3 linked regions of the Homo sapiens genome follow. The protein of the gene in region 2 interacts with the protein of the main gene of each other region in a pairwise test. Each region holds a gene or a part of one and is shown on either strand. Other genes may lie near its edges. The genes, in order: TBL1X, HR and RARB.

The links.
Region 1: the proteins of HR (region 2) and TBL1X interact in a two-hybrid assay, tested with the Homo sapiens proteins (one large-scale study listed by BioGRID and IntAct).
Region 3: the proteins of HR (region 2) and RARB interact in a two-hybrid assay, tested with the Homo sapiens proteins (one large-scale study listed by BioGRID and IntAct).

What each region holds. Positions count from the first base shown.
Region 1 is NC_000023.11:9,471,459-9,475,107, forward strand, and holds part of TBL1X (F-box-like/WD repeat-containing protein TBL1X), read left to right. Parts: intron 1-3,649. UniProt on the Homo sapiens protein: F-box-like protein involved in the recruitment of the ubiquitin/19S proteasome complex to nuclear receptor-regulated transcription units. Plays an essential role in transcription activation mediated by nuclear receptors.
Region 2 is NC_000008.11:22,117,362-22,121,010, reverse strand, and holds part of HR (lysine-specific demethylase hairless), read left to right. Parts: intron 1-52; coding exon 53-295; intron 296-503; coding exon 504-669; intron 670-837; coding exon 838-907; intron 908-1,120; coding exon 1,121-1,251; intron 1,252-1,727; coding exon 1,728-1,847; intron 1,848-1,945; coding exon 1,946-2,061; intron 2,062-3,649. UniProt on the Homo sapiens protein: Histone demethylase that specifically demethylates both mono- and dimethylated 'Lys-9' of histone H3. May act as a transcription regulator controlling hair biology (via targeting of collagens), neural activity, and cell cycle.
Region 3 is NC_000003.12:25,564,226-25,567,874, forward strand, and holds part of RARB (retinoic acid receptor beta), read left to right. Parts: intron 1-3,649. UniProt on the Homo sapiens protein: Receptor for retinoic acid. Retinoic acid receptors bind as heterodimers to their target response elements in response to their ligands, all-trans or 9-cis retinoic acid, and regulate gene expression in various biological processes.

The sequences.
Region 1 (3,649 bases), on a different chromosome or scaffold from region 2:
TTTTTTTCAGACTGGTTAAGGATGACGGTTTTATGTTAACTAAACATTGGGATCAAGTGACAGTTGTTTATGTCCGGTGCCTAGAGTATCAGTTTTCCCATGATTAAAATAAGCGATATTTTGGTAAACATTGATAAGTTAGTTGCGCATTTTAGTTCAGAAACCCACAGCGAGTCAGAAGGCGCTTTGTGCTGCTGGGCGCCTCTGAGTGATTCCGGGGAGTGCGGCAGTTCTCCAGCCCCAGGAGACCCTGTGAAAGAAGCACAAACAATGCTCACGGCAAAACTCACAGTGTTTATTCTTGACCTGGGTGTCTGCCTTGAATTCTTGTCATTTTTCCTATCGTGGTGGATGTAGCCGGAATGCTTTAAAGAAAACATGAGAGTTTTTTCTGCCTGTTTCCCTTGAGCCTGGAACCGATTATGACCCCAGATAGCCTGCACAGGGCTCTTTCCTTTCTGGAACACCTGCCCAGGCTAGAATATGGGAGTAGGGAGGAGGTGAGGCTCTCTCCTGCCCGGTAACCTTCCCGGCCAGCTCTCCAAGACGCTGAAACCTTCCTTCGGGTCTGTTGAAACTGCATCCCCAGCACCATCATGTCGGAGCAAGAAGAGAAGGGCATGTGTCCCCTTTAGGCTTGACTCTTTCCAATTAGGGACCTGCCTGTTGTTAGGATTTAGAGTCCATGTGAATGTGCAGTATTGTTCAGTGCTGCGAGCATTTTTGCTTGTCTGAATTTCCTGATAGAAGGGAATTTGGACAAAAAGAAGCTTATTGTACATGGTGCCATTTTATTCCTTAAATCAATAATAACAAATACTTTATTTATGTATTTTTAGAGATGGGGTCTTGCTCTGTTGCCCTGATCATAGCTCACTGCAGCCTTGGCTTTCTGGGCTCAAGTGATCCTTCTGCCTCAGCCTCCCAAGTAGCTGGGCCGACAGGCACAAGTCAGCATGTCCAGCTTTTTTTTTTTCTTTCTTTTTTTTTTTTTTTTTAATTTTCAATTTTTTTCTAGAGATTGGGTCTTGCTGTGTTGCCTAGGCTGGTCTTGAGCACCTGGACTCAAGCAATCTTCCTGCATCGGCCTCCCAAAGTGCTGCGATTACAGTTGTGAGCTACTGTTCCTGGCCAACATATACTTTAATATGGCAAGACCATATAAAATAATTTTAAGAGGCCAGGTGTGGTGGCTCATGCCCCCCAGCACTTTGGGAGGCTGAGGGGGGCAGATCACGAGGTCAGGAGATCGAGACCATTCTAGCTAACACGGTGAAACCCCGTCTCTACTAAAAATACAAAAAATTAGCCAGGCATGGTGGTGGGCGCCTATAGTCCCAGCTCCTTGGGAGGCTGAGACAGGAGAATGGCGTGAACCATGGAGGTGGAGCTTGCAGTGAGCCAAGATTGCGCCACTGCACTCCAGCCTGGGTGACAGAGCAAGACTCCGTCTCAAAAAAAAAAACAATAATTTTAAGAACTGGAGGAAAATTCAGCAGGACTGAGTCGTGATTTCAGTTTCTGGTGCACTGTGGGTAATTGGGTAATTGTCAGCCTGGATGCTTGTGCTCCTTTAGTTGTCACTGTTACCTTGTCATCTATGTGAAGATGAGAAATGAAGTTGAGTGGAGAACTGTCGCCAAAGTCTGCCATGTAAAAATCGGTAGTGCCAATGTGCAAAGGTAATTCCCAGGTGCTATAAAAGTCCAGGTGGCTTCACAGTTTCAGATTGTATTTCCCGAAAGCGTAGAGAATTGATATCCCTGAATAGGAAATTGACGTCCCTGCCATTTGGTTCATTTGGGGAACAGAATAAACTTGTGTCCTTGCCTTCAGTTCTTTTTTCAACAGAATCTTATCAAGCATTTGAATCGTACACAACTGTAATGCCAGCTCCATGTTGATAAAAACTCAAGAATTCAAAATTATAAACTTGAAAACAGCAATTGCCAACTTCTGACAGTAGCAGGAGAGTCTGGAGGACCTGTTCAGAGGAAGTCGGGTACTGTTTCCTTTTCTTGTCTAGGTTTGTTCTTGTCCGATGGGATCAGAGAGATTGAGATGGGGCATGATAGGCGGTGGGTTCAGGAGAAAGGGAAGCTTTAGAAATGAAGGTAGAAAAGATGCTTTCTTATTGGAACAGTGTTTTCAACGTTGAGCTCTGGAATGTTGCAGCCAACTAATGGTTCTCATTTGGGACAGTTCTGTCCCCCACCTTTGAAGGGGGTTTGGTTTAATTCCCAATTTGATTATGAAGAAAATACCAGATTCAGCTTGCATTTTCAAGACACAGTGGTTCTATGTCAACTTCAGCCATTTCCAGGGATCTGTCTTAGGATACTTCAAAAAGCCTAACCTTTGAGATGCACTCAGCTCATAAGTTCGTGAAAATAAGAATGAATAATCTTCCCTGTCCAGTACATGACAGAAATTATTGTAGACCAGATGAGAGCAAGGAGAGATACTTGTTGATATTACATGTCACGGGATGCTCTGTTAAATTTTATGGGACTCTGAGTGTAATTCCTTTAAGCCAGTAGTCTCTAAATTTGGGGGAAGGACAGGGGACAGAAATGACTTGTTTCAGATTTTAATTCCCAAAAGGGTCTTAGTGAGTTTCATGCCCTCTGGCAGGTGCACAGCAAGATTTATTGGGATGCAGGAAGAAATTATGAAAATGTCCATTAAGAAAATCTCTAATACTTGTAAAAAATATATTTCTTGTCCATGAAATGCATGTTACTTGAGTATTTTATATATTTAATAAATTACATGAGTTAGGAGCACCTTCTGAAAACTTTTTTGCTGAAAAGGATATATGATGAAAGAAACATTTATGATGTAGGTCCCCAAAGGCTGGAAGAGGGGGTGATACCAACGTCCCTGCCTGCAGGTAGGACACAGTTGTACTCCCCTTTCCTCTGACTTCAGCTACTAAGGTATGTGTGCGTTTGCACGCACATGTATGTGCGTTAAGTAACTTTGAGATCCACCAGCTTAAGGACTGGACATCGTTCCAGAGGTACAGGTATTAGTGATTTGACTTAGGGAAGAAAGAATATGCAATAACAGGGAACCATGCACATACTGGATCTATTGTATTTTGCGTGTTGTTTTTAAAGCTGAAAAAATGCGCTTGTTTCGGAACTAGATGACAGTACCTGTTTGCAGGTCCACAAGGAAACCTTGGAACAATGCTATGCTTTTTAAGCGTTTTATGACTGCATTGTTTTCATAATCACTGAATTCTGTTTATAAATCAGCTGATTTCATTGACGGATGCCCTCAGGGCTCTGGAGAATTAGGCGTTTTGCTGCAGAAATGGTTCAGAATTTCAAAGACATCAACGTGAGATTGTACTGGAATTGAGTTGTGATAAAAGTCCTAGGGTGCTTTAAATCTTTAAATCTGGTTATTTGTTTGTTTGTTTTTTGAGGCAGAGTCTCACTCTGTCGCCTAGGCTAGAGTGTAGTGGCGTGATCTCAGCTCACTGCAACCTCCGCCTCCTGGGTTCAAGCAATTCTCCTGCCTCAGCCTCCCGAGTTGCTGGGATTACAGGCGCCTGCCACTGCACCCGGCTAATTTTTGTATTTTTAGTAGAGACGGGGTTTTGCCATGTTGGCCAGGCTGGTCTCGAACTCCTGACCTC
Region 2 (3,649 bases):
GCCCTCCCTGTGGGGCCCAGTGGGTCCTAAGCCCCTGTGCCCCTCTCTGCAGGATGACCGCATCACCAACATCCTGGACAGCATTATCGCACAGGTGGTGGAACGGAAGATCCAGGAGAAAGCCCTGGGGCCGGGGCTTCGAGCTGGCCCGGGTCTGCGCAAGGGCCTGGGCCTGCCCCTCTCTCCAGTGCGGCCCCGGCTGCCTCCCCCAGGGGCTTTGCTGTGGCTGCAGGAGCCCCAGCCTTGCCCTCGGCGTGGCTTCCACCTCTTCCAGGAGCACTGGAGGCAGGGCCAGGTGAGGCACCCCTCCCCTCCCCTCCCGGCCCTGGCCACCCCACCTGCCCCTCGGGGCCTTGGTCCCTAGGCCCAGACAGACCCAGTGGCTCAGGGGGAGCAGGAGGGCTGTCCCCGAGCTGTTCTACTGCCCTTACAACACGCCCTTGCCTGGCCATGGCGGGCACCCTGGCCATTCTCCTCATGGCCTCCTTCCTTTCCCACCACAGCCTGTGTTGGTGTCAGGGATCCAAAGGACATTGCAGGGCAACCTGTGGGGGACAGAAGCTCTTGGGGCACTTGGAGGCCAGGTGCAGGCGCTGAGCCCCCTCGGACCTCCCCAGCCCAGCAGCCTGGGCAGCACAACATTCTGGGAGGGCTTCTCCTGGCCTGAGCGTAAGTGTCCCCAACACAGGGGAGAGGGAGCTGGGAGCCCAAGCCCTAGGGATCGGGTGGCAGAGGAGTCCCAGGGTGACCCCGAGGGGCTGGAAGCAGGTGTTGCTGCCGCCGGGGCAGGGGCTTCAGGGCTGAGGAGGCCAATGGCCGTTCTGTCTCCTCCTGTAGTTCGCCCAAAGTCAGACGAGGGCTCTGTCCTCCTGCTGCACCGAGCTTTGGGGGATGAGGACACCAGCAGGTGTGTATGTCACCAAGGGCCAGCCCTACCTCCCCGCCACCGCAGGCCCCGCCTGGTTCAGCCCTCCCCTCCTCCTCTGCCCCCAACCCCCACCCCGTGGTCCCTGGTACTCTCATGTTTGCCCTCTGGGAGTTACCCCGGTGGTGGTGGGGCTTTGATGGGGTCTCTGGTGCCCAGGTTGGGCCTGCTGGGCATGACCCCCTACCCTGACAGGGTGGAGAACCTAGCTGCCAGTCTGCCACTTCCGGAGTACTGCGCCCTCCATGGAAAACTCAACCTGGCTTCCTACCTCCCACCGGGCCTTGCCCTGCGTCCACTGGAGCCCCAGCTCTGGGCAGCCTATGGTGAGTGTCCCTCCACTCCTGCCCAGTCTCTACTCCCATGCCTGTCTGCCTGTCATCTCGGGGCACACGAGCGTCTGTGCCAAGGCCCTGGGGCCTGAAGCGCTTCTCTGATTCCATTTCTTTCTTTCTTTTTTTTTTTTTTTGTTGTTGTTGAGACGGAGTTTTGCTCTTGTTGCCCAGGCTGGAGTGCAATGGCACTATCTCGGCTCACCGCAACCTCCGCCTCCCAGGTTCAAGCAATTCTCCTGCCTCAGCCTCCCGAGTAGCTGGGATTACAGGCATGCACCACCACGCCCGGCTAATTTTTTCTATTTTTAGTAGAGAGGGGGTTTCTCCATGTTGAGGCTGGTCTCAAACTCCTGACCTCAGGTGATCTGCCCGCCTGGGCCTCCCAAAGTGCCAGGATTACAGGCGTGAGCAACCGCGCCTGGCTCTCTGATTCCATTTCTAACTGTTCTTTCTCTATTGCCATGCAGGTGTGAGCCCGCACCGGGGACACCTGGGGACCAAGAACCTCTGTGTGGAGGTGGCCGACCTGGTCAGCATCCTGGTGCATGCCGACACACCACTGCCTGCCTGGCACCGGGCACAGAAAGGTAGGTCCTCGGCCAGAGGCAGGAGCGGGGACAAGCTACAGAGGTGAGTGTTTGTCGCCACCAGCCCTGGGCCTGCCTGAGCGCTCTTTCCTCCTCAGACTTCCTTTCAGGCCTGGACGGGGAGGGGCTCTGGTCTCCGGGCAGCCAGGTCAGCACTGTGTGGCACGTGTTCCGGGCACAGGACGCCCAGCGCATCCGCCGCTTTCTCCAGATGGTGAGGAGGCAGCCGGGAGCCCTCCCCTTCCCCCCGCCCAGCCCTAGAAGCTCGTCCAGTCCCACCCCAGTGTGCGGTCCCATGTGCTCGCTCCCTGCCCCACGCCCTCAGGTGAGCTGCACAGACCCAACTCGCACAGACAGGTGCAGAGAAGGCAGAGGGGACCCGGAGTTCTGCCGTGGGGCTCAGAGAAGGGGCAGGGGCTGCGGCAGGAGAGCCTGGACCCGATGATGAAATGAGAGCACCAGCTGCCCGAGGCTGGACGTGGTGCTAGGGCCTTAGGCACAATTATCTGTTACCCGTCTCAGCCCCCCGCCCCATGAGGCAGGCACTGCTCCTTTCCCATTGGCAGATGAGAACACCGAAGCTCAGTGGCAGGGCTGGGATCTGAGCTTCTGTCTGTCATGGCCCCAGGTCACTACTCTATGCTCTTCCTGGAGGCAGGCAGCCTCCTCTGCCTTCTGAGACTCCGTCCGGCTGCCCACCTTTTGGTATTTGCATCTTGTTAGGGGAGACTGCCTGGAGGAGATGCTCCCGGAGGGGCTAGCAAGGAAGGGGGCTGAGGGAAGTGGAGGGAGAGATGGGTCAGGTGAGGAGCCAGGGAAGGGGAAGGTGATGGGGTGGGCTGGAGGCAAGAAGCTTGAGGCGCAGGGGAGGAGAGAGTCCAGGGGTAAGGCGAGGGCAGCCCCGTGGTTCCCAAGTCCAGCTGAGCCCTCATTATCCTGGGGAAAAGACTTCCACCTAGTGTCACCCCTCGCCAAGGCACACACACACACGGAGACGTGCAGAGGCCAGCATGGTGTGCACCCCTCCTGCCCACAGGTACACACATGTGTAGATACACACACAGATGCTGGGACACGCAGAGGGGAGCAGACAAGCACACCTCCACACACAGATGGCCTCTTCTGGGCTGGGTGTGGCTGGCCGTGGGCAGTCACTACGGCCCAACCCAGTGACTCACGGGGCAGGGCTGAGGGGCACAGTCTCCCTGGGTGGCCTGGGAAACACTGCTCAGCTCCAGGATGGAGCTGAATCTCCAAGGGCAAAGGAATCTTGGCACCCAGCTGGGACTCCCCTAGGGTCCAATTTGCTTCACCAGCCTTCCCTTCCCCCACGCCCCATCTTGCAGCCCTAAGCCCAGGGGCAATGGCTGAGGTCCTTGCCAAAGGGGGTGGATTGGGCTGGTGGTGGGTTGGAGCACGATGCTGGCGTCCCCTTTGCACATGTTCCCTGGGCACCTCTGTCCTCTGCGAGTCCCTGCCTGCCCAGAGAGCTCCCTGCTCTGGTTAGGCTTGTGAGGTCCCCGTAGCTGTGGCTGCTGCAGAGGCCTCAGCCTGGCCGGAAAGCCTGTTCACCTGCTGGCACTCAGAGCCTCGCAGTGGTCCTTCCCTTTTCTGCATCCGGAATCTTAGGGAGACCCTGATGAACACTTTGAGTTGTCTCCCCAGGGACACACAGCTCTCTCCTCATCCACCACTTAGCACACAATTCTGGCCATTCCAAAGACTTCAGATGAAGAAGTCCTGGTAGACAGTTTATGAACTGGGATTATGCAGGACGTCTCCCTCGGATTTGCAGAAAGGGG
Region 3 (3,649 bases), on a different chromosome or scaffold from region 2:
ACTTTTATTACATTCATTTCATTTGCAATATGATAGTGGATCATAAATATGTTACTTTTATGCCACCAAATCTGATTTGTAGCACTTAGCCCCTCACAAGGAGAATACTTGATATTTTATGGAGCACCTTTCATCCAAGAAGCGCTTTGCAAACATCAGGCCGGGTTCTATCAGGTGTATAAATCACATCTGTGACCCCCTGAATGCCCCACCTGCTTCATCAACCTTCTGGCTACTACTGTAGGGGTGGAGAGCAGTTAGTGATTCCCCCGCAGACCCCAACATGATAGTGAGACCTTTAAGTTCTGGAAGAAAGAGGCTCAGGTGAACTCTGTATTGCCACATATAGGCCCTGACAGTGGACAGAACACCACATTTAGTTATATGTCTACCTTATCATTTGCAAAACAGTTTTGAGGCCCCCATCTGTGGGTCGGATCTTGTATTAAGCCCTGGGGACATAGAGACAAGTAACATGTGGCCCTTGCCTTTCAGATATTCACAGACTTGGAGGGGAGGGCTTTGATGCAGGCTTGACAGTGTTTGCTCCTCTCTTTGCCTCTCCATTCCCTCCCAGAGGTGCACCGTACCTGAAAGCAGCTTGTCAAACTCCCAGGTCTGGCATAGGTATATGAGTGCATATACCAGTCAGTCGCAATCAGAGTGAAAGAAGAGGTCCACCATCAAACATCCCAGGCAGCCTTGGAGCTGAGCATCAGATGCACACCCCACGCTCCCAGAGAAGAGAGTCATCTCCCCACCCACCATCCCATAGCATCCCTCAATTTACCCTCCCAATTCCCCAGCGTTAGCTTCCTAATCTAGGACCAGTAGGATCCCCCTGCCACACCCAGTAATACACAGGCACAGCTCCCTGTAGCATCCTTCATTGTACTCACTACGCTGTGGACTGTGTGTACATGGGGTAGACTCAGACGCAGCGGAGCACAGTGGGTTTCCTAAGTTCTGATCCTGACTGTATCACTCACAGGATGCATGGCCTCAGGCAGGGTACTCACCTTCCTGTGCCTCCACTTTCTCATCTGCAAAATGGGTATAATAGTGATATCTACTCTATTAGGTTGTTGTAAGGATTGAATGGCCTACCATGAATAGAAGGCTTTATGATAGTTGTAATGAACACTTTCAGTATTGTGGTAAATAATACTCTCGTATATTAATTGCAGTACATGTAATAATAGTGATGCCAATATTCTATTATTATTATTATTACTGTCACTGTTTTATTGTATGATGAATGTCTGTCTGCTACCATAAGTTTTTGCTCCATGGTAGCAACAACCATCCTGTTTTGCGATGGCACATAGTAGATACTCAATAAATATTCATTGAATGAATGAATGAACAAAACAATGAAGGAACAAATGAATCCACCCACTCATTTGGTGCCACTGCGATGGCTTCTCCAAGCACCATTTTTCATATCAGTCTCCTCTGCCACTGACAGCCACAGGCCCCACAGTAATCCCCACAAGTCCTTGGTGTTTAGGTCATCCATTTCCCCCACGGAAGGGCCTTACATTCTTCCTGCATAACTAACCCACATAGGCCTTTACAGTAGTCTACCTCCTTCCCACCAAGCCCACCATCTGTGTGTCTCCATGCAGGTGCTACTGCCATCTCGGGGGAGGCTCTGAAAGGAGCTGTCTCCTCTGGAGTTGACCCCAGGTGGTAAGTGGTGGAGCTAGCACTAGTTCCAGATCTCCTGACTTCCCCTGCAGTACTTGTATCGCCCTTGCCTCCCACTGCTGGCCTCCAGGGGAACGAGTCCCTGCACTGCCCCAGGAGCCACTGACCACGAGGCCTCAAAGGGACCAATAGTCCCAAGAACTTGGACAAAGCTACCATCCCTAGGCCCCCGTGGCTTCTTGTGCACTGTGTCACCTCCATGATTCTGGTGGTTCTTGGCAGCCCTTCTCAAACACTGCGTCTGCGTTCTTCTAGAGTTTAAAACCATTGAGGGAAGCAGCTGCTGAAGCCACGTGTTTAGAAAATTTGTCCGTCAACTTATGAAGCTGTATGTAATTGGGGCATCATCACCAGAGGGGTTGTCCCTGCATTTTGTGGGTGTGGAAGAATTTGTGATAATCCCAGGAGTCCTTTATTCACATAGACAGTGGTGGTGGGACTTCACGTAGGGGACAAAAGGAGTGTGGAAAGTAGCCTGAGGTTACACACTGCTCCCCTTCGAGTGAGCTGCAAAGGCTGCTCCAAATTGGGCCCAAAGCACAGAAAATGGTGCTCTGGCTTCACAGTTGTGATTTTGCAAACGGCGTGTGTGATCACTGCACAACCCAACAGAGATGCCCAACTTGGTGCCCAGCTGCAGCTCACCCAGGGCCCCTTCCCACAGGACCTCACCCCTCCCTTTCTTGCTTGGTTCAGTTACTTCATGGTGACAGCTCACAGTGTCTCCTCTCTCCTGGTAACCCTCTAGAGCTGGGTTTGCTCGTCTGAGTTTTCCAGGCCCCTGGTGGTGGATGGGGACAGTGAAGCAGAATGCTTAGGAGCAGACACAGGTCCTGCAGACTTCCCTGTGGATGGGATTATGGGGACTCCTTCTGTGGGTTGTTAGTTTGTTTTGTGGTTTCTCTTTCTGCACATTGGGTTGACTATTTTCAAACATGGTATTGTTGGGCCTCAAGTTCCTTGAGTGTAGAAATGGGGTCATAAGGCCCACCTCACCTGGCTTACTGTGGGGATTTCGCGAGCTAGGATTCTTCACCTGCTGATGCCCAGTGGCCCTTGCCACACAATCACTAAAGGGTAGTGAGGCTGCTGCTGTGTTTTAATGTAGCTGTAGGTGTCATCTCAGCTTCAGAATCGACTCAAACAGTTCCTGGTATTTAGCGATGTGTCACCTCCCACAGGGCTCTGGGTTTTTTGTTGGTGTTGTTTTGTGATATAATTCACGTAGCATAACATTCATCATTTTAAACTGTACCATTCAGCGGTGCGTAGTGGATCCACTAAGTTGTGCAGCCTTCACCAGTAAGTCCAGAACATTTTCATCTCCTAAAAAACAAAACCCTGAACCCGTTAGCACTCCCGATCCTCCCTCCCCACCAACTTGCCCCCGTACCTGACAGCCACGAGTCTACTTTTTGTCTTTGGATTGGCCTGTTCTGGACATCCATATAATTTAGAATCACACAATGTGTGGCCTTTTGCGACTGGCTTCTTTAAGGCGTATGTGTGAAAGCTTCATCTGTGTTGTAGTATGCATCCATAATTCATTCCTTTCTATGACAAATAATATTCCACCATAAGGACGTCCTAGATTCCACTTCCCCGTCATCGGGTGATGAACATTTGGGTTCTTTCCACTTTTCAACTGCCGTGAGTCACACTGTCATGAACATTCATGGACAAGTTTTGCATAGACACATATTTTCAGTTCTCTTGGGTGTACACCTAGGAGAGGAATTGCTGCGTCACATGGTACCTCTGCGTATAACTTTGAGAAAAACTGCCGAGTACTCTTCCTCGGGGCTCTGTTTCAGAAGGACCCTCCCTGCTTAGATTTGACTTTTTCACTAGCTAAGGAAGGCCATTGGCAGAGGCCGAGGAAAAGAGGGGGGTCTGATCACCTGAGATCCTGCGCACTCACACACAAGCCTTCAGGCAT